Homo sapiens: one gene and its partners. The protein of the gene in region 1 interacts with the protein of each later gene in a pairwise test. Each region holds a gene or a part of one and is shown on either strand. Other genes may lie near its edges. The genes, in order: CLN8, SPCS2, TUBB4A and TMEM134.

The links.
Region 2: the proteins of CLN8 (region 1) and SPCS2 interact in a two-hybrid assay, tested with the Homo sapiens proteins (one study listed by BioGRID).
Region 3: the proteins of CLN8 (region 1) and TUBB4A interact in a two-hybrid assay, tested with the Homo sapiens proteins (one study listed by BioGRID).
Region 4: the proteins of CLN8 (region 1) and TMEM134 interact in a two-hybrid assay, tested with the Homo sapiens proteins (one study listed by BioGRID).

Annotation. Positions count from the first base shown.
Region 1 is NC_000008.11:1,766,384-1,774,360, forward strand, and holds part of CLN8 (protein CLN8), read left to right. Parts: intron 1-4,548; 5' UTR 4,549-4,671; coding exon 4,672-5,214; intron 5,215-6,540; coding exon of another isoform or gene 6,541-6,789; exon of another isoform or gene 6,790-7,977. UniProt on the Homo sapiens protein: Could play a role in cell proliferation during neuronal differentiation and in protection against cell death.
Region 2 is NC_000011.10:74,944,281-74,952,513, reverse strand, and holds the start of SPCS2 (signal peptidase complex subunit 2), read right to left. Parts: upstream 3,249-8,233; 5' UTR 3,229-3,248; coding exon 3,115-3,228; intron 1-3,114. UniProt on the Homo sapiens protein: Component of the signal peptidase complex (SPC) which catalyzes the cleavage of N-terminal signal sequences from nascent proteins as they are translocated into the lumen of the endoplasmic reticulum.
Region 3 is NC_000019.10:6,493,154-6,499,621, forward strand, and holds the end of TUBB4A (tubulin beta-4A chain), read right to left. Parts: intron 3,069-6,468; coding exon 2,011-3,068; 3' UTR 1,166-2,010; downstream 1-1,165. UniProt on the Homo sapiens protein: Tubulin is the major constituent of microtubules, a cylinder consisting of laterally associated linear protofilaments composed of alpha- and beta-tubulin heterodimers.
Region 4 is NC_000011.10:67,466,027-67,474,034, reverse strand, and holds the start of TMEM134 (transmembrane protein 134), read left to right. Parts: upstream 1-4,783; 5' UTR 4,784-4,842; coding exon 4,843-5,016; intron 5,017-5,942; coding exon 5,943-6,007; exon of another isoform or gene 6,008-6,018; intron 6,019-6,444; coding exon 6,445-6,534; intron 6,535-6,646; coding exon 6,647-6,723; intron 6,724-6,870; coding exon of another isoform or gene 6,871-6,893; exon of another isoform or gene 6,894-8,008.

The DNA of each region.
Region 1 (7,977 bases):
TTTTTTGTTTTTTTTTTTTTTTTTGAGACGGAGCCTCACTCTGTCACCCAGGCTGGAGTGCAGTGGCGCTATCTCAGCTCACTGCACGTTCCGCCTTCCAGGTTCCCGCCATTCTCCTGCCTCAGCCTCCCGAGTAGCTGGGACTACAGGCGCTCGCCATCACGCCTGGCTATTTTTTTTTTGTATTTTAGTAGAGACAAGGTTTCACCATGTTAGCCAGGATGGTCTCGATCTCCTGACCTCGTGATCCTCCCACCTTGGGCTCCCAAAGTGCTGGGATTACAGGTGTGAGCCACCCTGCCCGGCCGATTCGGCCTCCAGTTTTACCCATGGAAGGAACAGTGACTTCCAGCTGTGCATTACACTTAAGGACTCCTTCATGTGGCCTGAGCCTTATGGTGCACAGCAAGGGAACAGTGGGAACCCCTGTGTCCCATTTTGCGTATCAAGAGTGAGAGGGTGTGGTTGGGTCAAGGAGCAGAAATAGAAGCAAAAGGAGAAGCTGAGCTCTTCCCATACCCCTTCTGTGCTGCCTGACAGAACAAGGCCTAGCCACACTTCTGTGGGTGCCCACCTTGTGACTTGGGGTGAACCACAGCTGTTCTCAGTACAACGCTGATGCCACGAAAGGACAGCAGAGCTCTGCAGGACTCCAGGAAGACTGGGCGCTTGGGCTGGATCCTGCCTCTGGGACTGGCCTTCTACCCTCATGGCTGAGAGAGCTGAGGAGTTCACCTCCTTTGTGAACTCCTGGCTGGAGGATGCTGGTTGGCATTAACTAAACTCAGAGACCCACAGTAACGAGTTAGACTAGAACAGCACCAGCTTACCCAGAAAGTCAGGAGGTTTGAGCAAAGAATCAGAATGGGGGATTCACTACAGGACTGGAAGGGGAAGTAAGCATTCTGGTCTTTATAATCTGCTGTTTCTGCATCCCTAATTGGCACCTGTTCTCTGACTGCCAGGAGGGTTTGCCCACTCAGCTGTGGCTTACCTGTTTCTGTTTCCATGTCTTTCACCTATCTGCCACTTTTCTGTAGATATGGTAATCTCTCCAAAAAGATATCTAGAAAGCTTGAAGACCTGGTAGCTATTTGCTCTTATGGTGAAGATCACACAAACTAGTTGAACATCTGGCTTGTAGTAGGTGCTTCATTTCCCGCTGCTCTGTATGTTTCTTTCTTTTTTTTTTTTTTTTTTTTTTTTGAGACGGGGTCTCATCTTGTCACCCAGGCTGGAGTGCAGTGGCGCAATCTCAGCTCACTGCCACCTCCACCTCCCGGGTTCAAGCGATTCTCCTGCCTCAGCCTCCCAAGTAGCTGGGATCACAGGCATGTACCACCACGCCCAGCTAATTTTTTGTATCTCTAATAGAGTCGAGGTTTGACCATGTTGGCCAGGCTGGTCTCGAACTTCTGACCTTGTGATGCACCTGCCTTGGCATCCCAAAGTGCTGGGATTACAGGCGTGCGCCACTGCACTCGGCCTGCTCTGTGTATTTCTTTTTCCTGTAGTCAGATTCTGGGGTCCAGGGTGGTTAGGAAAGAAACTTGTTTTCTTTCTTTCTTTTTTTTTTTGAGATGGAGTTTTGCTCTGTTGCCCAGGTTGAAGTGCAGTTGTGTGATCTCGGCTCACTGCAACCTCCACCCTCCTGGGTTCCAGAAATTCTCCTGCCTCAGCCTCCTGAGTAGCTCAAATTACAGGTGCGCACCACCACGCCTGGCTGATTTTTGTATTTTTAGTAGAGGCAGGGTTTTGCCGTGTTGGCCAGGTTGGTCTTGAACTCCTGACCTCAAGTGATTCACCCACCTTGGCTTCCCAAAGTGCTGGGATTACAGGTGTGAGCCACCACACCCAGCCTGAAACTTGGTTTCTTAGCTCCTAAATAGTGAAATCAAGATCAGAGCCCACTAAGCCAGCCGCTCTTCTTGGTTTTTGGTTCTCATGTCCTGGAGTCCCTCTCACCTTGACCAAACCAAAGACCTCCTGAAGCATCACTTGGGCTCACCACTTCCACTGAGGTGGATTTGAGTCATTGATCTGGGCAGAGCCTTCTGGAGTCGGGGTTTCTCTCGTCTCAAGGCAGAGGTCCTACAGAAGTTAGTGGTCTTGGCCAAGCGGACATTGATGCAACTGTGGCAAAATGGGACCTATAAGTCAGAGCTGATGACCTACTCGTGGAAAAGTACAGGGAGAAGTTTTACGAGGGGTCCATATTTTAACCTTTAACAGTGTTGTTCACGTTAACCCTTGTAATGGATGCTATTCCTTGCCTGATACCTGTCCTTTCCACCCAGCCTGCTTTTCTTTAATGCTGGTAAGCGGTCTCCCCTCCAGGCATTAGGCTGCACTTGAAGTTGATCTGCTCCTGTGAAGTGCATAGGGGTTCAACGATGCCTTGCTGCACACTGAATACCAGAGCCGAGTGCTCTTGCCAGCCCCTTAATACCATGTTCAACCTGATTTGTCAACAGGTTAACAGAAATGTGTTTGGAGATGTGTAAGTACACTGGAGTCTTGATATATAGCATGACCAGAAGTGTGGGTCACGAGGGCACACATGGGCATGGCAGCCCCTCAGTTGTCATCCATAGCATCTATCAGAGAGCACGCCTGTGTGCCCTGAACTCACGCACCAGGGGCAGCATGACACGGGAGCCGTTTCTCTAGGGAGAAACATGAGTACCAGTGCTGTCTTTCCCCACATCAGATTTGTGTTCAAACAGAGCTAGTCTGTGTTAAAGCTGGAGTGTTAATGGAGAAACAGACAAACTCTTGTACTATTTTGCCTTTGATTATAGACCATTATCAAAGCAAGAGGTTAGGAGTGATCAGTGCTCCCTTGTCATTTGCATCAGGTCCCAGGACTCACATTCTTTGCATGCTTGTGTGAGCTAGTGTTTTCCATGTCCTTGGGGTGTGGTCACAGCGACCTTTTTGCCTGAATAATGATTGGCAAGTTTTTGCTGAATGGCCACAGTGAATGGCTCCTCCTATGCTTCTGGCTCTAGTCCTGCTGTCTCACAATTGAGTCAATTCTGGGGTCTCTTCCGGAGAGCAGAGGGTCCAGCTGCGTGGGGAGTGTGGTGTTCCCAGCCCTGCTGTCTGTTCGCTGGGTGTGAGTGACAAGAGTCCCCACTCCCTGCAGAAATTCCATTACCTGGACAAGTCCCTGCACACTGGGTGAGGGGGGACCAGGCGGGGACCTGAGTCTTTGTCGGTAGCCGTTCCTATGTCATCGTTGTGTGCCTGGGTTTCCTGCCGTGTAAAAGGAAAGGCTGGAATCAATCACACGTCCCTTCCAGTTTTTCAAGAACTTGAGACTCTGGTGTTTGTAGCTTTGCAGACAGGTTCAGGCTTAGGTAAAGTGGACCCTTTCAGCATGATTCAGCATCTGTTCATGTGTTCCATAAATGTTTCTTGAGGGCCCACTGTGGACCCAGTGCTGCATCAGGCAGAGGAGATGCTGTGATGGAAGGCAGGTGTGGTCTGTGCCCTCACAGAGCTTGCTGTCCAGTGGAGGTGAGGATTCAGTAAGCACTTGTCCTATGTGCACCCCACCAGCAAGTCTCCCGCCTTCACAGCAGTCCCAATCAGTCACACAATTCAGGCATCGCAGGATGAAACATATTTAAGTCATTACACTGGGATACACTTTGTTACAGCACTGAACTTCTGCTGTTTGATCCTAGTTAACACCCCAAACACCAAAAATGAGTGTTTGGGGTATGCATCAGGAGCTTGTAGCAAAGGTACTTAACCCAGTCCATGGGTCTCCCCTACTCTGGGAGGGCATCTGGAGCAAATGGCCTTTAAGTGAGGACCTGACAGGTAAGATGATGCCAACTTGGGGAAGGTAAAGACTTTTCCAGGAGAGGGCCCAGCAGCTGCAGAGACCCAGAGGTGCAGGAGAGTGTGATGTTTTCAAAGGACTGGAAGGTTATAGCATGGAGTGAGATGCAGGGGATGGTGAGAGTGGAACCAGAGAAGGTATAATTGATAATCACATTCTGCAGAGTGCCGTAGGTCACAGTGAGGAGTTCAGGCCTTCCCTGCTGCTGTTGAGAAGGCATTCCATGGCCTTAACCAAGGAATAACATGAAGAACAGGAGCACAGGTTTTCGTGACATCCTTGGGGTGTTAACTAGGATCAAACAGCAGAAGTTCAGTGCTGTAACAAAGTGTATCCCAGTGTAATGACTTAAATATGTTTCATCCTGCGATGCCTGAATTGTGTGACTGATTGGGACTGCTGTGAAGGCGGGAGACTTGCTGGTGGGGTGCACATAGGACGAGCATAGGACCGTGTGTTCCTGCCAGCACGGCTCCGGCCTCCTGTTCGTGGCTGGACCGCTCTAGCTTTAGTTTCATTTTCTTTCCTCCTATACTGTCAGTGGATGTTACCTTGGTATGTTTATGCACCCTTGTAAGTTCATTAAGAATAAGGTACAGAATTAAATATTTTGTAGTTTAATGTTTGCGTTACTGGGGTAGTGATGTGTCCTTGTTTCTATCGAGTCAACACAAAATGAATGATCTTTCTTTTAGATTGAAGATGGATACGTGACAATCCCAGGGACCGCTGCACTGACTTCATTTCCTTAGACAAGACACAGTGTAGGGCCCGGCCCGTGTTGGCCCCAGGACTCCTTTGGAATATAGCTGTGGACAATGAATCCTGCGAGCGATGGGGGCACATCAGAGAGCATTTTTGACCTGGACTATGCATCCTGGGGGATCCGCTCCACGCTGATGGTCGCTGGCTTTGTCTTCTACTTGGGCGTCTTTGTGGTCTGCCACCAGCTGTCCTCTTCCCTGAATGCCACTTACCGTTCTTTGGTGGCCAGAGAGAAGGTCTTCTGGGACCTGGCGGCCACGCGTGCAGTCTTTGGTGTTCAGAGCACAGCCGCAGGCCTGTGGGCTCTGCTGGGGGACCCTGTGCTGCATGCCGACAAGGCGCGTGGCCAGCAGAACTGGTGCTGGTTTCACATCACGACAGCAACGGGATTCTTTTGCTTTGAAAATGTTGCAGTCCACCTGTCCAACTTGATCTTCCGGACATTTGACTTGTTTCTGGTTATCCACCATCTCTTTGCCTTTCTTGGGTTTCTTGGCTGCTTGGTCAATCTCCAAGCTGGCCACTATCTAGCTATGACCACGTTGCTCCTGGAGATGAGCACGCCCTTTACCTGCGTTTCCTGGATGCTCTTAAAGGTAAGTGCATGCATCAGCAGAAGATGACATGTGCCTCACGCATTTAATCACTGGCTACAATGTCCTGGACGCTGCCATAAACTCAACAGCAGGCTGGATTGCAGCACACACATTCAGTTACAAACTCATTTTAGTTGAATGCAATATTCTGGTTTTGTTTATTTATTTATTTATTTTGAGACGGATTCTGGCTCTCGTCCAGGCTGGAGGCAATTTTCTTAATTTTAAGTCTTTTAGGCTTTCTCTTCCTTAAGGAAAGAAAGCTCAGTAGATTTTATGGCTCAGTAGATAGCGTCTGGAAGCACTTAATTTTTTCCTTTCTTTTAATACTATATTTATTTATTTATTTATTTTTTGAGACGGAGCCTCACTCTGTCGCCCAGGCTGGAGTACAATGGCATGGTTTCGGCTCACTGCAACCTCCGCCTCCTGGGTTCAAGTGATTCTCCTGCGTCAGCCTCCCTAGTAGCTAGGACTACAGGTGCGCACCACCACACCTGGCTACCTTTTTTGTCTTTTTAGTAGAGATGGGGTTTCACTATGTTGGTCAGGCTGGTCTTGAACTCCTGACCTTGTGGTCCGCCTGCCTGGGCCTCCCAAAGTGCTGGAATTACAAATGTGAGCCACCGTGCCTGGCCTCTTTTAATACTTTAGAAAAACTGAAGTAATATCTGTGCGTACACACATACCTTGCTTGCTTTTTATTTTTGAATAAGGTTGTTGTACTAGTGCTCAGAAGTGTTGGGACCTAGCATAGTTATTTGCCTAGCACTTTCTTTCTGTTTTTGAAGAACATGTTTTAAAAATATTTGTCACTTGATTGTCATATTGATGTCAAAATGTTCTTCATGTTAAACTCTTTAAACTTTTTTTCCTTTTGAGACGGAATCTTGCTCTGTTGCCCAGGCTGGAGTGCAGTGGCATGATCTTGGCTCACTGCAACCTCCGCCACCCGGATTCAAGCAATTCTCTTGCCTCAGCCTCCCAAGTAGCTGGGATTACAGCGCCCACCACCACGCCTAGCTAATTTGTGTGTGTGTGTGTGTGTGTGTGTGTATTTTTAGTAGAGACGGAGTTTCACTGTGTTGGCCAGGCTGGTCTTGAACTCCTGACCTCAGGTGATCTCCCCGCCTTGGCCTCCCAAAATGCTGGGATTACAGGCATGAGCCACCGTGCACAGCCTTAAAATTGTTTTTACATAGATTCTTGCTATCTTTTATGACCCATCACATTGTTTATGGGATATTTGATATGAAATTTGAGATCCTGCAAATGTTCAGCCATTCACACAAATGGGTCATGTTACTGCACATTTCTTGTCTACAGGAGACTGGTAGCCTCGAGAGGAAAAATAAGCATAACAAATCACTCCTGCCTTCGGGGTCGAGGTGGGTAGATGATATCAGTCCATCAAAAGTGCACTGCAGTGTAAACAGTACAGACTGTTCATGCATAACCACCATGGACACCAGCCGGGTGTCAGATACTGTGCTGGCACCTGGGAACTCAAGGAGGAACTTGTGTTCCTGGTGTCCCCTGAGGTTGGCCCCATCTGGCACCAGATGGGGTGTGTGAGCACAGTGACAGGAAAGTGCAGAGAAACCATGGCCCCAGATGCGGACCCTCTGCAGGAGGAGCAGGTGAGCACCTCGGAGTTAAGGCAAGTGAATGAGGGTGAGTGAGGCACAGTCGTCGCCAGTACAGAGCCTCACAGGGTGGCCATGGAAGTAGATGGAGCCTATGGCAGGCGATACTGGAGACATCCTGGTGAGTGCGTGGTTTGGGCGGTGGCAGGAGGAGGTTGGGGGCCGGTGTGATTTGGGTAGAACTTACCAAGGAAGAAGGGTTGGAACCATGAATAGTTTGAAAGAGCCCCTCCGGTGACCTGGCTACTGAGTTCCCTTGGCGAGCAAATGACTGAATATGAAGCTGCTGGTCTAAGTGTGGGTCATTTTGGGAACGATGCTGTGACCTGGGACCCCATCAGCATCCTGTACGCAGCTTGCAGTTTTCCAGTTTTCTCTTTGTGGGCGTTATTTCCATAAGAGTGCAGACTTCTGGGATGCAGGTCAGGGCTGTGACTTCCCTGGGTTTCTCTGGAGTGAGATCAGTGTGGAGTGGAGAGGTGTGTGCTGGAGGAAGAGGCCTTGGCCTGTGCTCCGCATTGCCTACTCCTCTCACCTGGAAACACCGGACTTCAGGAGTCACTCGGCTGTGGCAGAAAATAAAGTTCTTGAAAGGAAAGCAGAGGCGCTCACTCACATCGATGCCCTAAACATCAATACCACATCAATGTCCCAAGTGGTAAATAGTGACTAAATTATTAATACATCCCACAAGATGGTGTGCTTGAGGTCATTAGTGTATTTTGAGAAATAGATTAATAGTTATCTTGTATTTTATTTTTATTACAAGTTCTTTAAAAACAACAAGAAAGACGTGAGTCTTTCTGTCTCTCCAGTCCTCAGGGGAAAGCAGTGTTGGATTTCTCCAGGGTTTTATCTGTGCTTCTCCTGGAGCCAGGTGTGGGGACAGCGTCTCCAGCAGTTCTCCCTCCCCTGGTGTGGTGGTGGAGCCCAGCCTCCAGGAGGACAGACTCAGCGAGATTTTATTTTGAAGTTTGCACATTCTCTAAAGCTTTTAGGGTGCTGTTTGTGTAGAATGGAGAAAGGGTTATTTAAGTATTTACTTCTAACCCTGCTCATGTTAACTGTATAAAGCCAACAGACCCTAATAAGAGAAAATTATAACCTAAATTAATAT
Region 2 (8,233 bases), on another chromosome or scaffold:
GAGACCTTGTCTCTACCAAAAATAAAAATAAAAATAAAATAAAAAGGGCAGAGGAAACCAAACTAAAAAACCCAAAGAACATTTACCAGCACTATACAATTTGATCCTTACAACAAGCCTATAATATGTATGAATGTCCACAATATTTACATAAGGAAATTTAAATTCAGTAATATCACACAACTTATCCAAGGTCATGTGGCTTTTATTAGGTAGGTGCAAAAGTTATCGTGGTTTTTGCCATTACTTTCAATGGCAAAAACAGCAATTACTTTTGCACCAACCTAATAACATGCGGCACTAGAACTCAAATTTGTCTCTTTTTATTATATATTATACACTACTGTGTATACGGCCTTATTAAGAAGTCTTCTAATTTCTGTCTCTCCAAACCATCTGAATAGTTTTCCTAAAAACCACTTTACACAGTCTCAAAACCCTTCAACAGCTTTCCTCTACTTCAAGCAATCCACGGCCTCCCTAATCAGATGCTATCTACTTGTCACTACAGTTCCTTTAGAGAGCCTTCTAGTCAACTCAATACCTGAGAAACATAAAACACCATCACATCTGTGTAACTTTACTCAAGGAGACTTTTTTACCTGGCATGTCTTTCTTTTCTCCCCCCAAATAAGGTGCCAGTTCCACTTTCAGGAATGAGGCCTTTCCTTCAGGCTCTTACTCTTTTTTTTTTTTTTTTTTTGAGACAGAGTTTCCCTCTTGTTGCCCAGGCTGGACTGCAATGGCGTGATCTCGGCTCACTGCAACCTCCACCTCCCGGGTTCAAGCGATTCTCCTGCCTCAGCCTCCCGAGTAGGTGGGATTACAGGCATGCACCACCACACTTCGCTAATTTTGTATTTTTAGTAGAGATGGGGTTTCTCCATCTTGGTCTGGCTGGTCTTGAACTTCCGACCTCAGGTGATCCGCCTGCCTTGGCCTCTCAAAGTGCTGGGTTTACAGGTGTGAGCCACTGCGCCCGGCCGAGGCTCTTACTCTTATCAATAAGCTCGCAGGGTTCACTCTATTTCTCTCATTTGAACTTCCGTAACAAGTACACACTTGAGCGAATATACCATATACTTCCTTAAATAGATTCAATTACCCCATCTCCTATATTTGGCTATTCTGAGTGCTCTCTGACAGTAGGATTCTTGATTTACTCCTCCACCATCACACATCTGTACTGGACACTACAGGTAATGGAGATCATTAATGTGTACTGTCTTACTTGGTTCTTCCCAAAACCCTGTGATCTAGGTGCCAGAGATTCCAAAATTCCAAATGAAGAAAGGTTAAGTGACTTGCCAATCTTCATACTGTTAGCAAGTAGCAGAAATACTTCAAAGCTGAAATCTTATGATCCCCACATCCGGGTTCTTTCAATAACACAATGGTGCCATATACACTATTCCATAATAATAGTATTCTATACTGCCTTAGCAGAATGCCCATACTTAATGTTTGCTGATGATGATCCAAGTGCAAGGAAGAGCAAGAGCAGTTAGTGGGGCAGGTAAGCACAGGCTATGAGGTGCTTACCTAGCAAGAGGGAAGGATTTGTGTACACAAATGACCATCAATTCCCCATACTCTCACATGTCTTGAAGCAATTTACCATCCCAACCTCCAGAATATGTTTCTGTATCTTAAGGTTTGAGTGTGAGGCCAGGTGCATGGTGACTTATGCCTGTAATCCCAGCACTTTGGGGAGCCAAGGTGGGAGGATCTCTTGAGGCCCAGGAATTTGAGACCAGCCAGGGCAACACAGTAAGACCCTGACTCTACAGAAAAGTTAAAAGCAAAAAAATTAGTCAGGCATAGTGGTGCACATTTGCAGTCCCAGCTACTCAGGAAGCTGGGGTGGGAAGATCACCTAAGCTTAAGAGTTCAAGGCCGCAGTGAGCTAAGATCCATTCTGGGCAATGGAGCGTGACCCCTCTCACAAGAGAAGAGTGTGAGAACCATGTCTTTCAAAACCAATGACACTCAAAAAGACAAGTAAAAAGACCTGGATCTTAACCCCTCAACATAATCATGTTTTCATTTCTTAAGCACCTACCATGTGTTATGCACAGGGAAGTCTGAAAGCTGTTTTCAATTATATTCAAAAATTCTGCTTACTATATTAAAGACACCATGCTTAACAATTCTCATCAAACCAGCCCAGGGCCCTACAATGAGAGAACTGGAAGGGAATTTAGAGTTAAGTCCCTCATTTTAAGGCTAAATCTCTCACTTTGCAGATGAGAAAACAGATATAGAGAGAGCAAGCATATTTCAAGGTCACAAAGCTAATTAGAGGCAAAATCAACACCAGGACGTTGTTCTCCGTGCAACTGTTTCTTCCAAGATGCTGTGCAAAGAGCAAGAAAGGCCAACCCAGGGACAGTTTTCCTTTTTTTCTTTTCTTTTAAACCCTTGTTGCTAGGACTGCAGTTAAAAAAAATTTTTTTGGATGAGCAGAGGGAGGAAAGGGGCAAGCGTGAGCGGGCAGCAGTGCACTTGGTAGCAAAGAGGGAGGTGGAGGGAAGAGAGGAGAGGGCGGGGAAAAACAACAGGAAAAAAAGAAAAATCTTAAAGGCTTCTTGTCAGCCCAGTAGAACAGTCAATACTCAAATATTTTCAGTATTCGCCTATCATGATAAAACGCCTAAAAACTTCAGTAAGCAAAAGGACAAGAAGCACTTTGGAATCTGTAGCAGCACGCAAGGGTGATGGTGGTAGAGAGTTTGGGGGATACTGATTCTTTAATCTTTGGGCTTCGGTTTTCCGTGTCTGTGAAATGGGCACTGACAACAGTGCACCCAGCCCCCCAGGAGAAAAGAGATGGACACGATTAAATATAGGAAAAATCAAATTACCGAAAAAGGTGTGGCGACCAGGACCAGAACACTTGCGAGAAAAGAAGAAGTTCTAAAGAGGACCGGGTCCAGGTTTGAAGTGTGATGAGGGCAAGGGCAGGCTCCAAGCGTGCGTAGGGTTGTGATAGTGGTCACACAAGGGCTCCCCTCAAAAGGCCGTAGAAAATAAGGGAGACCGGGATGGGAAGGTTGGCTCGCCGCCTCCCAGGCCTCCCCAGGATTCAACTGTTCCCAAGAACCGGCTCCTCACCTTATCCAACAAGCCGCTACGGCCACTTCCTGTCCCGCAGTTGGAAGCACCACCAGCCCCACTACAGCCTCCGCTACCACCGCTTCTCCCGCCCTGTACAGCTGCCGCCGCCATCTTGTCCGCCTCTGCGTCTCCCTCCCCTCCGACTTGTCTGAAGCCGATTGGCTGGAGCTGACAGCGTGACGCGCCGCGCGGAGTCAATCGGGATCCGTAGTTTGGGTCTTGCTGGCGCGAGGTAGTCAGAGGACGTGGCCGCGGGGCTTGCTGGGACTTGAGGTTAGACGTCCCGGCCGTCGGTTGCCGCCTACACTGTCTGCCGTCGCGTCGCAGTTACTAAGGCGTGGGGAAGATAGCGGCAGGCACCGCAGTGGAGCGGCTCCGAGATCCCCGGGGGGCTCGCAGGCGCGCATCCCTCCTGACTGGGACGTCGCCTCCGCAGACCCCTCGGAGGCTGAAGCGACGCCGGAGGCAGGTGCGACTGAAACTTAGTTTTCGAATTCGAGTCTTTCTCCGGCCCAGGTGTGGAGTTTCCAAAGGAGTGGGCAGGAGCTTGTCCTTCATCCTTTTCTAGCCCGGTTGTGGCACTTACCGATTATTCTCTCAAGCAGCTGTCATTTTAGCTGTTTGTAATGTTTTCGTGTTAACGGAGAACTCGCGTTTACTGAGTGCCTACAGTCTGCCAGGCAGTATCCTATGTGCACTTCCAGCCATCCTCTCTCTCACTGAGTCCCACAACAGCCCTGTTAGATGAGGAGGAAACTAAAGAACCTACCCAAAGCCAGATAGCATGTATCTGAACTCGGTTTTCAAGCCGGCATTTAAAAAAAATCAAAACCAATATATATCCCTTCTGACACTCTGCTTTTACGGTTTTAGGATGTAATAGTATTCTAGATTTTAATTATTTTTTTCACAAATGTATATTGAGCACCAATATTGTACTAACGGATACAGGGGATCAAGATAGACCTGGTTGCTACTCTGGTGGACTACTACTCCATGACAGAGTTATCAAATAGCAGTATTGTATTATACCATGCTCTATTACGTTGTATTTTAATTAATTTTTTTCACAAATGTATATTGAGCACCAATATTGTACTAACGGATACAGGGGATCAAGATAGACCTGGTTGCTACTCTGGTGGAACTACTACTCCATGACAGAGTTATCAAATAGCAGTATTGTATTATACCATGCTCTATTACGTTGTATTGTTTTTTAATTCCTATATATCCCCCATAAGCGTCTAAAGAATTAAACAAATATTTTTGAGTTTCTTACTATGTAACAGGCACTATTCTAGTCACCAGGGATATATCCCTGAATAAAACAGACAAAAACTTGTCTTGGGGAAGCCAAAATTCATGTGAAAATAATTATCTCGGCCGGGCGTGGGGGCTCATGGTTGTAATCCCCGCCAAGGCAGGCGGATCACCTGAGGTCAGGAGTTAAAGACCAGCCTGGCCAACATGGTGAAACCCCGTCTCTACTAAAAATACAAAAATGAGCCGGGCGTGGTAGCGGGCACCTGTAATCCCAGCTACTTGGGAGGCTGAGGCAGGAGAATTGCTTGAACCGGGGAGGCGGAGGTTGCAGTGAGCCGAGATCAGAAAGAAAAGAAAATAATTATCACTAAATAACTAAATTATTACTAAAAAGAAAATAAATATCACTAAATAGCAATAACATCAGATGATATTTCATTACCTCTGTGAAGCAATCCGTGGACACTAGTCAGATCCCCTGTAGCTTGTTGTTGCAGTTTATCTTTTACAACTTCTCATTTTTCTTTTATTTAAAATAAAGTGAGATGATACAGCATTGCCCTAGTCACTTTTTATTTTATTTTTTATTTTTTGAGACAGAGTCTCACTCTGTCACCCAGGCTGGAGTGCAGTGGTGGGATCTTGGCTCACTGCAACCTCTGCCTCCTGGGTTCAAGCAGTTCTTGTGCCTCAGCCTCCCAAGCTGTAGTCTTTGTAGCTGGGACTACAGGCACATGCCACCACACCTGGCTAATTTTTATATTTTTAGTAGAGACAGGATTTCGCCGTGTTGGACAGCCTAGTCTTGAACTCATGACCTCAAGTGATCCGTCTGCTTCGGCCTCCCAAAGTGCTGGGATTACAGGCATGAACCACCACACCAGGCCAACTTCTCATCTTTCAAGATCCAGCTTTAATGTCACCTACCCTGTGAAACTATTTCTGATACTTGCTTCTTCTTTCTTCACCCACTGCATGAAGTGCTCCTGTGGCATTTTGTTCATGGGTTGGGTTAGTTCAATTAACAATCATTGAGACTCTTCCTTCAGTAGGCCAGGTCCTGTGTGAGATGCAGGATAAAGAGATAAGTACAGGCTCACGCCTGTAATCCCAGCACTTTGGGAGGCCGAGGCGGGCGGATCACGAGGTCAGGAGATCAAGACCATCATGGCTAACATGTTGAAACCCCGTCTCTACTAAAAATACAAAAAATTACCCAGGCATGGTGGCGGGCGCCTGTAGTCCCAGCTTCTAGGGAGGCTGAGGCAGGAGAATGGCGTGAGCCCGGGAGGCGGAGCTTGCAGTGAGCTGAGATAGCGACACTGCACTCCAGCCTGGGTGACAGAGCAAGACTCCGTCTCAAAAAAAAAAAAAAAGAAAAAGAGGTAAGTAGGACCCAGGCCTGACCTGACCTTGGAGATACTCACAGCCTGTAGTGAGGTGGGGAACAAACAAGGAAGCAGGCATTATAATACAGTGTGGTATAGTGCCTGTATTAGTCCATTTTCACACTGCTATAAAGAACTGCTCAAGACTGGGTAATTTATAAAGGAAAGAGGTTTAATTGACTCACGGTTCTGCATGGCTGGGGAGGCCTCAGGAAATTTACAATCATGGCGGAAAGGGAAGAGGCAAGTCTTACATGGCAACAGGCAAGAGAGGGCAAGAGTGTGAAGGAGGAACTGTCAGTTATAAAACCATCAGATCTCGTGAGAGCTCACTCACTATGGTGAGGACAGCATGGGGGACCACCTCCTTGATCCAATCACTTCCTACTAGGTCTCTCTCTCAACACATGGGGATTATGGGGATTACAATTCAAGATGAGATTTGGGTGGGGACACAAAGCCTAACCATGTTAGTGCCTCCATTAAGAAGTGGGCCTGATGGCTGGGCAAGGGGGTTCACGCCTGTAATCCCAACACTTTGAGAGGCTGAGTTGGGAGTTTGAGGCAGCCTGGGCAACATGGTGAAAACCCATCTCTATCAAAAATATAGAAATTTAGCTGGGCATGGTAGCACACGTCTGTGGTCCAGCTACTTGGGAGGCTAAGGTGGGAGGATTGCTTGAGTCTGGGAGGTGGAGGTTGCAGTGAGCTGAGATCATGCCACTGCACTCCAGCCTGGGTAACAGAGTGAGACCTTGTCTCAAGAAAAAAAGAAAAAATAAATAAAAAAAGAAGTGGGCTTGAGGAGGCTCAGCCTAAGGAGAGGGAGATACAGGAAAGCTAATCTGTATGTAGCCGGGCAAGGAAGAGGGGCAGAAATGTGATAGGCCAAAGGAATGGAACAAGCAAAAATATGCCTTACTCTGTGTGTGTGTGTGTGAGAGAGAGAGAAAGAGAGATGTTTGTTTTGGAGGAAGCGCTACAGTCAGATTGGCATTAGCTGCATCAAGTTTGAGATGGAGACCAGAGGTAACTAAAGCTAACCAGGAAGTCAGCCTCCAAATCTGGAACTTTGACTTTTTTTTCTACCATATAAAGATCTTACTTGTCTTAGATAATGTAACCAGGGGTTATGTGCCCTTCTTGGCCCATTAGTTGTAGATCTACACCTTCTCACCTAATATTCCTAATAGGGAACTAGAATTTCTGCGATAGCATCCAGGTCTGCATGCCTCCTACAGGCTTCAGTGTGAGTCATCTTTTGTATTATATGCATGGCAAATATCTTTTCCCAGACTGTGTCTTATCTTTCAACTTTGACTTTCCTATTTTTATCTGGCAGAAATTTATTTTGTGTAAATAATCATGTAAACGATCCCGTCCTTTCAGGTTTGTGCTTCGTGTGTCTGATTTAAGCACTCCAGCCATACCCCACTATCATAATTATATTCTCCTATACCACCTTCCCATCTATGTCTTGTCTTTGTCTCCATCTCTGTATTGGTATCTATCTGTTTCTTGGATCCTTAGTCCTACGGGCAAGGACTAAAGGCAAGACAAATATTGGAGTGGAAGGCTCACAGTAGAATATAATTAATGAGGAAGTTCAAGAGCTCTGAATAGCAGGCTAAGAAGGAATATAATATTTATCTTACAGGCAAAGAAACAAGTGAAGAAACAAAAAAAAAAGGAAGTTAAGGGGCCATTCCCAAAGTCAAAGATCAAGTAAGTACTCTGGAGACCTGAAGCCAGGTCACCATATTCTGTAAGTTACTGAAGGCTTCTCCAACAGCCATCATATTTAACATTTTCCAGCCAGCAAATTACATCACATCTAACATTTTCCAGCCAGCAAGTTACTCATTCATTCTTTCATTTACCTCTAGCAGATGTGTGTGATTGGTCATGAGAGAGAGTTCCTGAAAGACATATTGACTGAATATAAATTTGTCCCCATCCATCCATCTATCCATTAATCTTACCAACATATTTTTAGTGAGTCGTAGGCTCTATGCTACATGCTGGGATTACACAGGTGAATAAGGTAATTATAGGCCCCACAACAGGTGAGAAGTTGATGAGGGGAGCAAACAATTATAATAAAGTCATAAGTGCTATACTAGGCGAAGTATGGAGTGTTGTAGGAATACATAAGACAAGCCTCCATCCCTTTGCAGGGAAAATCAGGGATCAGGAAACTCATAGTGCCCTGTGTTGGACCAAAGGAGGTACCAACATTGATTCATTTATTCCACAAATATTTATGGAATCTGTTATGTCATAACATCTGTTATGTTAGGTGCTTTGTTAGGAATAAATTGATGACTACCATTGATATTGCCCTTTCTTAGGAAGGTTTTAGAGTCTAATTGAGGATATGTGTGTGTGCGTGTGTAGCAGATATATATGTCTTGGTCCTAGGAGTGCCATCATATCCTTCACTTGGCTCACATGTCTATTGC
Region 3 (6,468 bases), on another chromosome or scaffold:
TGACCTCTGGTTGTCCTCACTGCTACACTCCCACCAGCGCCATGACAGTTTACAGATGCCACGGCAATGTCAGGAAGTCACCCTACATGTTCTAAAAAGGGGAGGCATGAATAATCCACCCCTTGTCTAGCATATCATCAAGAAAAAACCATAAAAATGGGCAACCAGTGGCTCTCATCTGTGGAGTAGCCATTCTTTGTTTTTTTTTTTTTTTTTTTTTTTTTTGATACGGAGTCTCGCTCTGTCACCCAGGCTGGAGTGCAGTGGCGCCATCTCAGCTGACTGCAACCTCTGCCTCCCAGGTTCAAGTGATTCTCCTGCCTCAGCCTCCCAAGTAGCCGGAACTATAGGCGCCTGCCACCACGCCCAGGTAATTTTTGCATTTTTAGTAGAGTTGGGGTTTCACCATGTTGGTCAGGCTGGTCTCTCCTGGCCTCAGGTGATCCACCCACCTCAGACTCCCAAAGTGTTGGGATTACAGGCATGAGCCACTGCACCTGGCTCCTTTATTTATTTATTTAATTATTATTATTTTTTGAGACGGAGTGTCACTCTGTTGCCAGGCTGGTGTGCAGTGGCGTTATCTTGGCTCACTGCAACCTCTGCCTCCCAGGTTCAAGCGATTCTCCTGCCTCAGCCTCCGGAGTACCTGGGACTACAGGCGCCCACCACCACGCCCTGCGAATTTTTTTATTTTTAGTAGAGATGGGATTTCGCCATGTTGACCAGGCTGGTCTCTCCTGGCCTCAGGTGATCCACCTGCCTCAGCCTCCCAATGTTGGGATTACAGGTGTGAGCCACCGTGCCCTACCCCTTTACTTTCTTAATAAACGTGCTTTTACTTTATGGACTTGCCCTGAATTCTTTCTTGAGATCCAAGAACCCTCTCTTGGGGTCTGGATTGGGACCCCATTCCTATAACAGTTGTGGGGGGATCCTGGGGGAAAACATACGATCCCATTTTACAGGTGGGAAGACCGAGGCTGAGAGAAGGCAAATGGCTTAGTCAAAACCTCAGGGTTAGTGGGTGGCCTAGCCTGGCCCGTCTGATCCCTCCCCAGCACGCCCCCCATCCAGAGATGAGATGTCATCGGTACCCTCCTCCATCCTGTAGAGAAAAGCCCGCACTTGCTGTAAGAGAGGAAAGAGGGATTCGGCAGAAACATCCATGACAACAATTAATTTATTTATTGAGGGTGAGGCAGGGAAGCGGGGAGGGAGGGTAGGGGTGACCTCTCTTCCTCACAGGCACCAGGCCTTGTTTCTCTCCCAGATAAGCTAAGGTCGGCAGGGGCTGAGGGGAGTGAGGCAGGGAGGATGCATGGGGCCTGTGGGAATCAGAGAGAAGCTGGGGTCAGAGGTAGGAGCTGACGCTGTGGGGGGTGGGGGGTGAAAGGTGAGGCAAGGTCAAAGGTGAACTGCAGCTCGGAGGGAGGGGTCCAATATAAACCAGGACTTGCAGGTGTAGAAGTAAAATGGGACTCATAGAGGGTGAAAGAGAAGTTGGAGTCAGAGGGGATTCAGAGATCAAAGAGAAGTTGGGGTCAGAGGTAGGAGCTGGGGCTCAGGTGGGGGGTTAAAGGTGAGGCAAGGTCAGCGGTGAAGTGCAGCTCAGAGGGAGGGGTCAAACATAAACCAGAACTTATAGGTCTAGAGGTAAAATGGGATTCATGGGGGGCAGAGGTCAAAGGTGAAGCAGAAGTCAGGGGTGAAGGAAGGTCTGCAAAGTTAAAGGTGCGGTTTCCAGAGTCAGAAGGGGTGAAGCGGGGCTCCTCCTGGGAATGTCAAGGTTGGAAGAGCTCAAGGGGGTTAAAGATAAATTAGGGCTCAAAGGGGAGCCAGGGTCGGAGATGAAGTAGCCAGAGGTAAAGCGAGCTCCAAAGGTATTGTTAGGGTCAGCGGGGAGTCAGCCTTGGAGGGAAAGCGGGGCTCTAGGGTTCAGAGATGGGGGGCCTAGCGGATCAAAGGTCAGAAGCCTCGAGGGGACAGGTGGGAAGCGATGGGAGCAGCCTAGGCCACCTCCTCCTCCGCCTCCTCCTCGAACTCGCCCTCCTCGGCCGTGGCGTCCTGGTACTGCTGGTACTCAGATACCAGGTCATTCATGTTGCTCTCGGCCTCGGTGAACTCCATCTCGTCCATGCCCTCGCCCGTGTACCAGTGCAAGAAGGCCTTGCGCCGGAACATGGCCGTGAACTGCTCGGAGATGCGCTTGAACAGCTCCTGGATGGCCGTGCTGTTGCCGATGAAGGTCGCGGCCATCTTCAGGCCGCGGGGCGGGATGTCGCACACGGCCGTCTTCACGTTGTTGGGGATCCACTCCACGAAGTAGCTGCTGTTCTTGCTCTGCACGCTCAGCATCTGCTCGTCCACCTCCTTCATGGACATGCGGCCCCGGAACACGGCGGCCACGGTCAGGTAGCGGCCGTGGCGCGGGTCGCACGCCGCCATCATGTTCTTGGCATCGAACATCTGCTGGGTGAGCTCGGGCACCGTCAGGGCCCGGTACTGCTGGCTGCCCCGGCTGGTCAGGGGTGCGAAGCCGGGCATGAAGAAGTGCAGGCGAGGAAAGGGAACCATGTTGACGGCCAGCTTGCGCAGGTCGGCGTTCAGCTGGCCCGGGAAGCGCAGGCAGGTGGTGACCCCGCTCATGGTGGCCGACACCAGGTGGTTGAGGTCCCCGTAGGTGGGGGTGGTCAGCTTGAGGGTGCGGAAACAGATGTCGTAGAGTGCCTCGTTGTCGATGCAGTAGGTCTCATCCGTATTCTCCACCAGCTGGTGCACAGACAGCGTGGCGTTGTAGGGCTCCACCACCGTGTCTGACACTTTGGGCGAGGGCACCACGCTGAAGGTGTTCATGATGCGGTCTGGGAACTCCTCGCGGATCTTACTGATGAGCAGCGTGCCCATTCCGGACCCCGTGCCACCCCCCAGCGAGTGGGTCAGCTGGAAGCCCTGAAGGCAGTCGCAGCTCTCGGCCTCCTTCCGGACTACGTCCAGGACAGCGTCCACCAGCTCTGCGCCCTCCGTGTAGTGCCCCTTTGCCCAGTTGTTGCCGGCTCCGGATTGGCCTAGAGAGGGAAGGGGAGGGGACACACATGCAGTTATGGGGAGCCCCAACCCTTGACTCTGTCTCTCCACCACCTGGAGGGCCTCTAGTAGTTGAATACTAGTAACTATCAAAAATAATAACAAATAGCCGGGTGCGGTGGCTCACACCTGTAATCCCAGCACTTTGGGAGGCCGAGGTGGGCGGATCACGAGGTCAGGAGATCGAGACCATCCTGGCTAACACGGTGAAACCCCGTCTCTACTAAAATTACAAAAAAAATTAGCCGGGAGTGGTGGCGGGCGCCTGTAGTCCTAGCTACTCGGGAGGCTGAGGCAGGAGAATGGCGTGAACCCAGGAGGCGGAACTTGCAGTGAGCCGACATTGTGCCACTGCACTGCAGCCTGGGCAACAGAGCGAGACTCCGTCTCAAAATAATAATAATAATAATAATAATAAATAATAACAATTATAGCCAGGTGTGCTGGTGAGCGATCGTAGTCCCTGGCTACTCGGGAGGCTGAGGCAAGAGAATTGCTTGAACCTGGGAGGAGGAGGCTGCAGGTAGCCAAGATTGAGCCACTGCATTCCAGCCTGGGTGACGGAGTGAGACTCCATCTCAAAAACACACATACACACAAAACACTCCCCCGCCCCCTGCCTAAAAAAAAACCAAGACTGGGCACAGTGGCTCATGCCTGTAATCCTAACACTTTGGGAGGCAGAGGTGGGAGGATTGCTTGAGCCCAGCAGTTCAAGACTAGCCTGGGCAACCTAGTGAGGCCATGTCTCTACAAAAAAAAAAAAAAAAAAAAAAAAAAAAAAATATATATATATATATATATATATATATATATATATATATAAATTAGCCAGTCATGGTGGTGGCACACCTGTAGTACCAGTTACTAGGGGGGCTCAGGTGGGAGATTGCTTGAGCCCAGGAGTTGGAGGCTGCAGTGAGCTATGATCACACCATTGCAGCCTGGGAGACAGAGCAAGACCCTGTCTCTAAAACAAATAAATAATAACAATAAAAAGATTAATATTTAACATCATTATTAATAATAATATCATTTTCAGGCAGGGTCTTGGTATGTTGCCCAGGCTGGAGTACAGAGGTGCAATCATGGCTCACTGCAGCCTTGACTTCCCAGGTTCAAGTGATCCTCCTGCCCCAGCCTTTTGAGTAGCTGGGACTACAGGCTTATGCTACCAGATCTGGCTAATTTTTGTATCTTTTTTTTGTAGAGGTGGGGTTTCGACATGTTGCCCAGGCTGTTCTTGAACTCCTGAGCTGGAGCAATCCACCTGCCATGGCCTCCTAAAGTGCTGGGATTACAGGCGTGAGCCACCATGCTTGGCCTGTGTTTTCTTGTTAATCATGTTTATTGTCTGCAAGCTCACTGTGGAATGCAAGCTCCCGGAGGAAAAGAATCAGTATTAGAATATTGGCCAGGCGCAGTGGCTCATGCCTGTAATCCAGCACTTAGGGAGGCCGAGGCGGGCAGATTGCGAGGTTAGGAGATCGAGACCATCCTGGCTAACACAGTGAAACCCTGTCTCTACTGAAAATACAAAAAATTAGCCGGGCGAGGTGGCGGGCGCCTGTAGTCCCAGCTACTCGGGAGGCTGAGCCTGCAGTGAGCCGAGATCGTGCCACTGCACTCCAGCCTGGGCGACAGCAAGACTCCGTCTCAAAAAAAAAAAAAAAAAAAAAGAAGAATATTGGCCAGGCGTGGTGGCTCACGCTTGTAAACCCAGCACTTTGGGAGGCCGAGGCGGGCGGATAGCGAGGTCAGGAGATCAAGACTATCCCGGCTAACACGGTGAAACCCCGTCTCTACTAAAAATAGAAAAAATTAGCTGGATGTGGTGGTGGGTGCCTGTAGTCTCAGCTACTCGGGAGGCTGAGGCAGGAGAATGGCGTGAACCCAGGAGGTGGAGCTTGCAGTGAGCCGAGATCGCGCCACTGCACTCCAGCCTGGGCGACAGAGTGAGACTTTGTCTCAAAAAAAAAAAAAATGGAATAAAAAAAAGAATATTGGCCGGTATTACTGTGAACAGCTAACGTTTTCTTTCACCCCTCATCTGTCTCCACCTTAGTTCAGCTCCAGCATCACCCTCCTGGATAAGTTCAATTCCCTCTGTCCTGGTCCCCTGGCTCCTACCCTTATCACCCAGTCTGTCCTCTCCACAGTACCCACGAGAGGACACCTGAGAGCAAGTAAGTCAGGTCCCGTCCCTCCTCTGCCTACAGCCCTCCATGGCTCCCACCTACCTTGGGGTCAAAGCCCAAATCCTCCCTGCAGGCCACAAGGCCCTGCCGGACCTGCCCCATCCCCTCCCTCACTCTGCTTCAGCCGCAGCTGTTACTCCAGCTTTCCAGGTGTGGTCCTGCCCTGGGGCCTTTGCACTAGTGGCTTGGCTGCTTAGAATGCTTTCCCCCCAGGTATTCACCTGACTTTTTCCTCACTTCCTTCAGGTCTCAGCTCAATGCCACATCCTCAGAGAAGCCACCTCTGGTCACCCCCTCCCTCCTCCTCCCGAGCCTGGTGGTTTAGACTGCAGATTCTCGGGACTGACAAGACAAACTGTGTGACCTTGGACAAGTGACTTCCCCTTTCTGATCTGTTGGAAGATTTCAAAACATAATGATGCAGTTTTGTGGCCGTGGCCCATCATAGGTCCTTGGGAAATGGCTGGGTGAAATCAAGATGAAATGAGATTGGCCAAATGGTGTGAGTGATTTCAGGAGGACCAGAGGGCTTACAGTTGGGCCAAGAGATTCTATGGCCTCTGGGTGGCCAGGGGGTGGGAGGAGCATTAAAAGTGTGGGCTCAGACCAGGCGCGGTTGCTCATGCCTGTAATCCCAGCACTTTGGGAAGCAGAGGCAGGCAGATCACCTGAGAGGTCAGGAATAGGAGACCAGCCTGGCCAACATGGCGAAACCCCGTCACTATTAAAAATACAAAAAATTAGCTAGGTGTGGTGATGCATGCCTGTAGTCCCAGCTACTCGTGAGGCAGGAGAATCGCTTGAATCTGGGAGGTGGAGGTTGCGTCACTGCACTCCAGCCTGGGCAACGGAGACTCCGTCTCAAAAAAAAAAAAAAGCGTGGACCTAGTAGTCAGACCCTCTCCTCTGGCTCCTGACAGCCCCAGTGGCTTGCAGTGTGACTTTCTGCAAGTGACCTAACGTCTCTGTGCCTCTGTTTTCTCACCTGTAAAATGGAAGTAAGAGGCGAGTTGCGGAAAAGATTCAGAGAGGCAGGACAGGTCCTGCATTTAGCACGTCTTACATGCTGGGAGTATTGGAGGCGGGTGGAGCCAGGGTGGGGACATGCAGCCAGCTGGAGCCAGGAAAGCTTTCCCGGAAGGATTGTCCCAGGGTGTGGACACCCCACTATCTTCACATATGC
Region 4 (8,008 bases), on another chromosome or scaffold:
TTTTTGTATTTTTAGTAGAGACGGGGTTTCTTTTTTTTGTTCGTTTGTTTTTTGAGACGGAGTCTCGCTCTGTCGCCCAAGCTGGAGTGCAGTGGCGCGATTTCAGCTCACTGCAACCTCCACCTCCCGGGTTCACGCCGTTCTCCTGCCTCAGCCTCCCAAGTAGCTGGGACTACAGGGGCCTGCCACCACGCCCAGCTAATTTTTTGTATTTTTAGTAGAGATGGGGTTTCACTGTGTTAGCCAGGATGGTAGAGACAGGGTTTCACCATGTTGGCCTGGATGGTCTCGACCTCCTGACCTTGTGATCCACCCGCCTCAGCCTCCCACAGTTCTGGGATTACAGGCATGAGCCACTGCACCCGACCGGGTATCTGGAGATTTTTACCTCTCCAGTGCTAGGAAGGGGCTATGCCCATAAACTCAACAGGAAGCAGTTACAGAAGATGGATCTCTGCCCTTCCGCTGCCCTCTTAAGATTAAGAAGGAGTATCTAATCTCTGAGCGAGGAATGAGGTAGGTGGCAGGACTCAGCTCTGGAGGTGGGACACAGACACCAGACCAGATTGAGAACTAGCTAAAACAGGGAATGCTGCGCATGGTGGCTCATGCCTGTAATCCCAGCACTTTGGGAGGGTGAGGCAGGTGGATCACTTGAGGCCAGGAATTTGAGACCAGTTTGGCCAACATGGTAAAACACCATCTCTACTAAAAATACAAAACTTAGCTGGGTGTAGTGGCGGATGCCTGTAATCCCAGCTACTCCGGAGGCTGAGGCAGAGAATCGCTTGAACCCAGGAGGTGGAGGTTGCAGTGAGCCTAGATCGTGCCACTGCACTCCAGCCTGGACAACAGAGGGAGACTCCGTCTCAAAAAAATAAAACAGGGAAGAGGTGAAAGCACCTCTCCATAAGACCTAAGACCCGTAAGACCAGTGCATGTCAGTTTACCATTGCCATGGCAACACCTAGAAGTTACCACCCCCTTCGGTGGCAATGACCTGACGGCCCAGAAGTTACCACTCTTTCCCTAGAAATTTCTGGATAATTCACCCCTCAATTTGCATGTAATTAAAAGTGGGCATAAATATGGCTGCAGAACTGCCTCTGAGCAGCTGCTGGGGGCACACTGCCTGTGGGATGGCCCTGCTCCACAAGGAGCGACGCCTGTGCTGCTGCTGTGCGCTGCTGCTTCTGTAAAAGTTGCTTTCCAATAAGTAAAAAATAAGGCCAGGCACGGTGGCTCACGCCTGTAATCCCAGCACTTTGGGAGGCTGAAGTGGGCAGATCAACTGAGGTCAGAAGATGGAGACCAGCCTGGCCAAAATGGCGAAATCCTGTCTCTACTAAAAATACAAAAATTAGCTGGGCGTGGTGGCAGACGCCTGTAATCCAAGCCACTTGGGAGGCTGAGGCAGAAGAATCGCTTGAACCCAAGAGGCAGAGATTGCAGTGAGCCGAGATCACACCACTGCACTCCAGCCTGGGCGACAGAGCAAGGCTCAGTCTTAAAAAAATAAAAAATTTTAAAAAATGTTTAAGTTGCTGTCTAACACCACCAGCTCACCCTTGAATTCTTTCCCAGGTGAAGCCAAGCACTCTCTTGGGCTAAGCCCCAATTTTGGGGATCACCTGCCCTGCATCAGCCTTGCTACGCTGAGGCTGATCTTGAATTCCTGGCCTCAAGTGATCCTCCTGCCTCAGCTTCCCCAAAGTGCTGGGATTACAGACATGAGCCACTGCACCCAGCCTGAAAAGGAGTGATTATTCTTTGAGAGCATGTTAGACAAAGAGTCAAAGACAGACAGATAGGAAATATGTGCAAGGTCATAAACCAGCAAGGAATTAATGATTAGATATGTTGATATGCAAATTAGTGGAAAAAGGCTAGAAACCCAATAGCAAAAAGAAAGACCAAAGATATGAAAAGCCAGTTCACAGACAAGGGACACCCAATGGCTGACAAGGGCACAAAGAGCAGCTCAAACTCTCCAGCCATCAGAGAACCCAGAGGAACATGAGGTACCACTTTAAATTCATCAGATCGGCAAGCCATTAAAAAGTTGGATGGTACCAAGTCCTGAGAGAACCAGAAGCCTCAGGTGGAGTGTCAACTCTCACAGCCACTCAGGAGAGCATCTGTGGTACCCTGTGAAGTCATGAGTGCGTGTGCCCTATAACCTGGAAATCCTACCCCAAGGGGAATTCTCCCACAGTCCATAAGGGGACAGCAGGAAGATGTTAACTGCAGTGATGCCTGTGATGGCGGGGTTGAGGCCAGTTTGAGTGTACAACACTGTGGAGGTGAGGTGGATCATAAAGGTGCTAGACACTCAACATGGTACAACATGCATGTAGCCTGTAGAAACAATAAACAAATGCATATGGAAAACAGCATCGAGAGCAAAAATGTAAACGTGTAAGTAACAGAACTGAATTTTCTGCATGACATCATGTTTGTAAATTGCAAACACATCCACATAGGAGACAGTGCCATACATGGTACAGAGCCAGGCAGGCTTTAAGGACGCCGACTGAGCATGCTGACATGGGTCTGATGGAAGGCAGGGGAGAGGAAGGAACCTGGGAAGTGAAAGAGGGTAAGTGAATTAACATAACTCGAGAGGGGCCTTATTCATAGTGTTGATGTGTAACAAACAGAAGTAGACTTGACTCAGCTCTGTACATGAGGCCATAAAATGAACATGAGGCCGGGTGTGGTGGCTCATACCCAGCACCTTGGGAGGCCGAGGTGGGCAGATCACGCCTGTAATCCTAGCTACAGGGGAGGCTGAGGCAGGAGAATCGCTTGAACCCAGGGGGCGGAGGTTGCAGCAAGCCGAGATCTTGCCACTGCACTCCAGCCCGGGTGACGGTGCGAGACTCTGTCTCAAAAATAATAATAATAATAATAATAATAATAAGGCAGGGCACTGTGGCTCATGCCTGTAATCCCAGCCTCCTCGGGAGGCTGAGGCAGGAGAATCACTTGAACCCAGGAGGTGGAGGTTGCAGTGAGCTGAGATCGCACTCCAGCTTGGGCAACAGAGCGAGACCCTGTGTCGAAAAAAACAAAAACAAAAAAGAACTCTTGACTAAGGTCCATAAAGCTCTCAAGGCTCTGGGGCCCATCTACTCCTCCCAGGCTCATCAAGTCGGCCTGCCCCTTTCCTTGCTGCTCAGCCACACTGGTTTTCTCACATTCTTCCTCCACAGGCCAAGCTCCTTCCCACCTCCTGGCCTTTGAACGTGCTGTTCCCTGGTGCCAGGAAAACACTGAACCTTGCTTTTCTCACAGCTGGCTCCTTCATCATCGGCATTCCTGCTCAAATGTCACCTCTTGGAAAGGTCATCTTTGAGTACGAAATCTAAAGTCAGTTTTGCATCACACAGCACTTGAAACTGTCTCATTTTGCACTGTTTTATTCACCACTGTATCTATAGTGCCCAAAACAGTGTTTGGCCCTAAATAGATGCTTAATAAATACTTGTGGCAGAAATGAATGAGGGGTTTGCCAAAGTCCCAAGTACTTACAAGTGGTAGAATGGGGATTTGAAACCAGGTCCACCTAATTCATAGAGTACTTCTGCTCTTCCACCCCCACCGCCCCCCACCACGGTTCATTTTTTTTTTATGGAGTCTTGCTCTGTTGCCCAGGCTGGAGTGCAGTGGTGTGATCTCCACTCACTACAACCTCTGCCTCCAGGGTACAAGCGATTCTCCTGCCTCAGCCTCCCAAGTAGCTGGGATTACAGGCACTGGTCACCGTGCCCAGCTAATTTTTGTATTTTTAGTAGAGACTGGGTTTCACCATGTTGGCCAGGCTGGTCTCAAACTCCTGACCTCAAGTGATCCACTCTCCTTGGCCTCCCAAAGTGTGAGCCACCGTGCCCTGCCAAGAGTTCAGATTTTATTCTAAGTGCAATGGAAAACCAAGGGAAGGTTTTTTTGTTTGTTTTGTTTTGTTTTTTGAGACGGAGTCTTGCTCTGTCGCCCAGGCTGGAGTGCAGTGGCTCAATCTCGGCTCACTGCAACATCTGCCTCCCGGGTTCAAGCAATTCTTCTGCCTCAGCCTCCCAAGTAGCTGGGACTATAGGCATGCACTACCACGCCCGGCTAATTTTTGTATTTTTAGTAAAGACGGGGTTTCGCCTTTTGGCCAGGCTGGTCTTGAACTCCTGACCTCAAGTGATCCACCCGCCTCGGCCTCCCAAAGTGCTGGGATTACAGGAGTGAGCCACCGAGCCAGGCCAGCAGCAAAATTTTTAAAAAGGGTTTTCAGAATAACACACGCAGATAAAAAGATTTGTTTTAAAAGATCACTTCGGCTGCTGCGTGGAGACTGACTGGAAATTGGAAGACACATAAGCTCTCTGAGCCTCGGTTTCCACATTTGCAAAAATGGGGAGAGCACCCCTCCGGTGCGGGGCTGTTGTGAGTAAGGTGGGGAAACAGTTCCCAGGAGTCTCCTTGGCACTCGAGGAACAGGCTGCGGTGCAAAAGGCCCTGTCAGGGACCTGGAGGTTGGGGCGTGGAAGCCCCTCCAAGCCCCCGCACATACACGCCTGGGGGATGTGTCCGAGCCCGGCACGGGCTGTCGCTTGCCATGGCGGCCACTGAGTGGCGTCACGGGGCGGGCGCGCTCCGTCTGGAAGAGGCTCCCACCCATCAGCCCGCTCAGGGCTCGGCAACTCTGGCCTGCTTAGGGCGGACGGGGGCGGGACCGGCGCGTGGGGCGGAGCCAGGGTCGGAGGGGCGGGGCATGCGGGGGCGGGGCAGCGGCGACGCTGGGTGTGTGGGCGCAGATGGCGGCGGCGCACGGCGCCTGAGCGGGCCGGGGCCATGAGCGCCGCCCGGCCCCAGTTCAGCATTGATGATGCCTTCGAGCTGTCCCTGGAGGACGGGGGCCCTGGGCCCGAGTCCAGCGGGGTCGCGCGCTTTGGGCCGCTGCACTTCGAGCGTCGGGCCCGGTTCGAGGTGGCTGACGAGGACAAGCAGTCCCGGCTGCGCTACCAGGTGAACCGCCCGGCCCACCTAACCCCCTGCCCCCGGCCGGACGGGACCCCAGGCCGGGCCCCAAAGGCCTCAACTCGGGGAAGCATCTGCCTAGAGGCCCCAGCTGAAGCGCGAGACCGCCCCCCCGCCCCGCGGACGTGACTCTTGATCCAGAGCCCTGCCCAGGCCCTCCCGGTTCCCATACCGGGCCCCAGCCAGCCGGGAAGAGCCCAGTGCCCGGGCCCGGGAGCTCATCCCTCAGCTCCAGCTGGGGAACCCAACCGGATTCCCCACTCATCCTGGCTACTCGCACCTGGCCCCCGCTGGGTTGGGGGAGCTCCTCTGTATCTGAACCAGACCTTGCCCCACACGCAGGAGCATCCCCTGTGCCCCAGGCCAGCTAAGCTGATGGGAACCCGCACGCCTTTCTCTATTCTGAAAGCCCTCTCCCTAATCCCACCACCACCCCTAAGAGCTGGAGCTCCTCTCACATGACCAGTCCTTGCCCACCCTTTGGCTCCCACTAAACCAGAAAAACCCATTTTCCCAGAAAACCTCCACCAACCCTAGGCTGCTTTTCTTGGAGACCTGGACCAGAACCCTGTGCCTTGAACCTGGGAACTCTGGGCCTGGCCTTTCCTGGCACCCCAATTCCCAAGCTCCCATTCTAGGCCACTGAATGAGAGCTCCACCCTAACCCAAAGTTGGGAGCTCTCCTTTCCCTGGGATCTATGCAGGCTCCTGCTCCCCAAAGCCCTGGCATCCACCCACCTCCTACCTGGTTTCTGTGAATCACCAAACCCGTTCTGCGGGGAGGGCAGAGGGCCAGGTGAACAGCTGCCAGGCGGCCAGGCAAATGGTTGTGTAGGCCTGCTTTTCTCTTCCCGGGAGGGAGTGAGGAAGGGCCCCAGCCCAGCAACCCCCCTGAGACCTGTGTTCTGCAACAGAACCTGGAGAACGATGAGGATGGAGCCCAGGCCTCTCCGGAGCCGGATGGGGGAGTCGGCACCAGGTTAGGGCCAGGTGGGGACCCAACCCTGTACCCCAGCCCCAGCTCCTATCCCCAGGGACCCTGCTCAGTCACCCACCCCACTTCACTCACTCTCTTCCATCCCGTCCTATTGATTCCTAGCCTGACCCTCACTTTCCTCACAGGGTCTCCTACACTGTAGGGTCACCCTACCCTAGTGCCCAGCTGTACTCACCTCTTTCAGAAACCCCCAGTCTGGTCTGGCCCCCACCTTCATACAGGTCACCTGTCCTACAGAATCCCCTAGCTCATCCCCAGCCCCTGAATTCATGCTCACCCACCGAGGCCTCTCAGGGCCCACTATCCTGCAAGGGGCCAGCCCCAGTCCCTGCACCATGCCCTGCACTTCATCAGGACTCCTGTCCCAAAGCAACCCCGTCCTTGCCTCCCTGCCCCTCACTGGGCGCCTGTCCTGGCAGGGATTCCAGCCGAACTTCCATCCGCAGCTCCCAGTGGTCCTTCAGCACCATCAGCAGCAGCACCCAGCGCTCCTACAACACCTGCTGCAGGTGAGCCTGCCCGCCTAAGCCCCCAGCCGAGCAGCCCTGGCTCCACCCCCACAGCCTCCTGCACCCCCTCCCTCCACCTCCTTCACATTCACCCTGCTCTCCTGCCACCCAGCTGGACCCAACACCCTTTGATCCAGAAGAACCGCCGAGTGGTGCTGGCCTCCTTCCTGCTCCTGCTGCTGGGGCTGGGTGAGTGGCCCTGAGGGTTGGGGTCAAGAGGGGCCCCGTGGGAGGCTCTGCCCTCCTTTTGTACAGGCTCTGCCTCCCCCTTGACACTGAGCCTCCCAGCATCCTGAGGAGGCAGCTGGCTGCCATCATCACACTCCCATTTTACAGGTGAGGAGACAGAGGCCTTGTGACCTGGGCACACAGCCAGGAAATCACACATAGCTGAAAATGGAACCTGGCTTATCACTGCAAAGACTTTTCCTTTTTTAAAAAATTTAACCTGTTTAAATCCATTAGAGGACAGAAGAGTAGCAGCTACCATTTATTCTGTGTCTACTCTGGGCAAGGTGCAGGGCAGTTTTATTTTCCCATCTTACAGAAGTCCTACAAGTGAGGTGGTGCCCAGAAGCCACGTGTAGGGGCTCAGGGATGCCGAGTGCCCAGCCAGTGCAGAGCCGCAGGGCACCTGGCACTTCCCCTTGTCTGGCATCTAAGCACTGACAAGCACCCCTCTCCTACCCATTGCTCAGATGGGGGAACTTTTGGTCCAGAGCAGGCAGATCTCACACCAGGTGTTCTTTGGCTCCCAGGCACCTCGTTCTTTGGGGTAGAGGAGGCAGAGTCCCCAGAAAGGATCCAGGGTTGGGGTCACGAGTGATCCATAAGAAGGGACTAACTGTGGCTGCTACCCTGGCTCATCTCTCCGCTTCTCCAGGAAGGCCAAGGCTCCCCAGCCAGCCAGGCCCCTGGCACAGAGTCTGGCCTCTGCTCAGGGTGTTTGAGTGTGGGGGAGGGGGCTGCCACTTCCCAGCACCGCTGTACACTGGCCCTGGTAGTGCTGCCAAGTTCTTTCATTTTTCCCCTCAACCCAGCAAGGCAAGCCTGGGGCTACCAGAGCGCCTTAGAGGGCCTTTGTAGGGTGCAGGGAGTGAGTTTCAGCCCCCATCATACCCTATACCCCTTTATTTTTATTTATTTATTTTTTGAGGAGGAGTCTTGCTCTGTCGCCCAGGCAGGAGTGTAGTGGCGCAATCTCGGCTCACTGCAACCTCTGCCTCCTGGGTTCAAGGGATTTTCATGCCTTAGCCTCCAGAGTAGCTGGGATTACAGGCGCGCGCCACCACACCTGGCTAATTTTTTGTATTTTTTTAGTAGAGATGGGGTTTCACCATGTTGGCCTCAGGTGATCCACCCACCTCAGCTTCCCAAAGTGTTGGGATTACAGGCGTGAGCCACCACGCCCAGCCCTTTTTATTTTTTAGAGACAGGGTCTTGTTCTGTTGCCCAAGCTGGAGAGCTGTGGTAT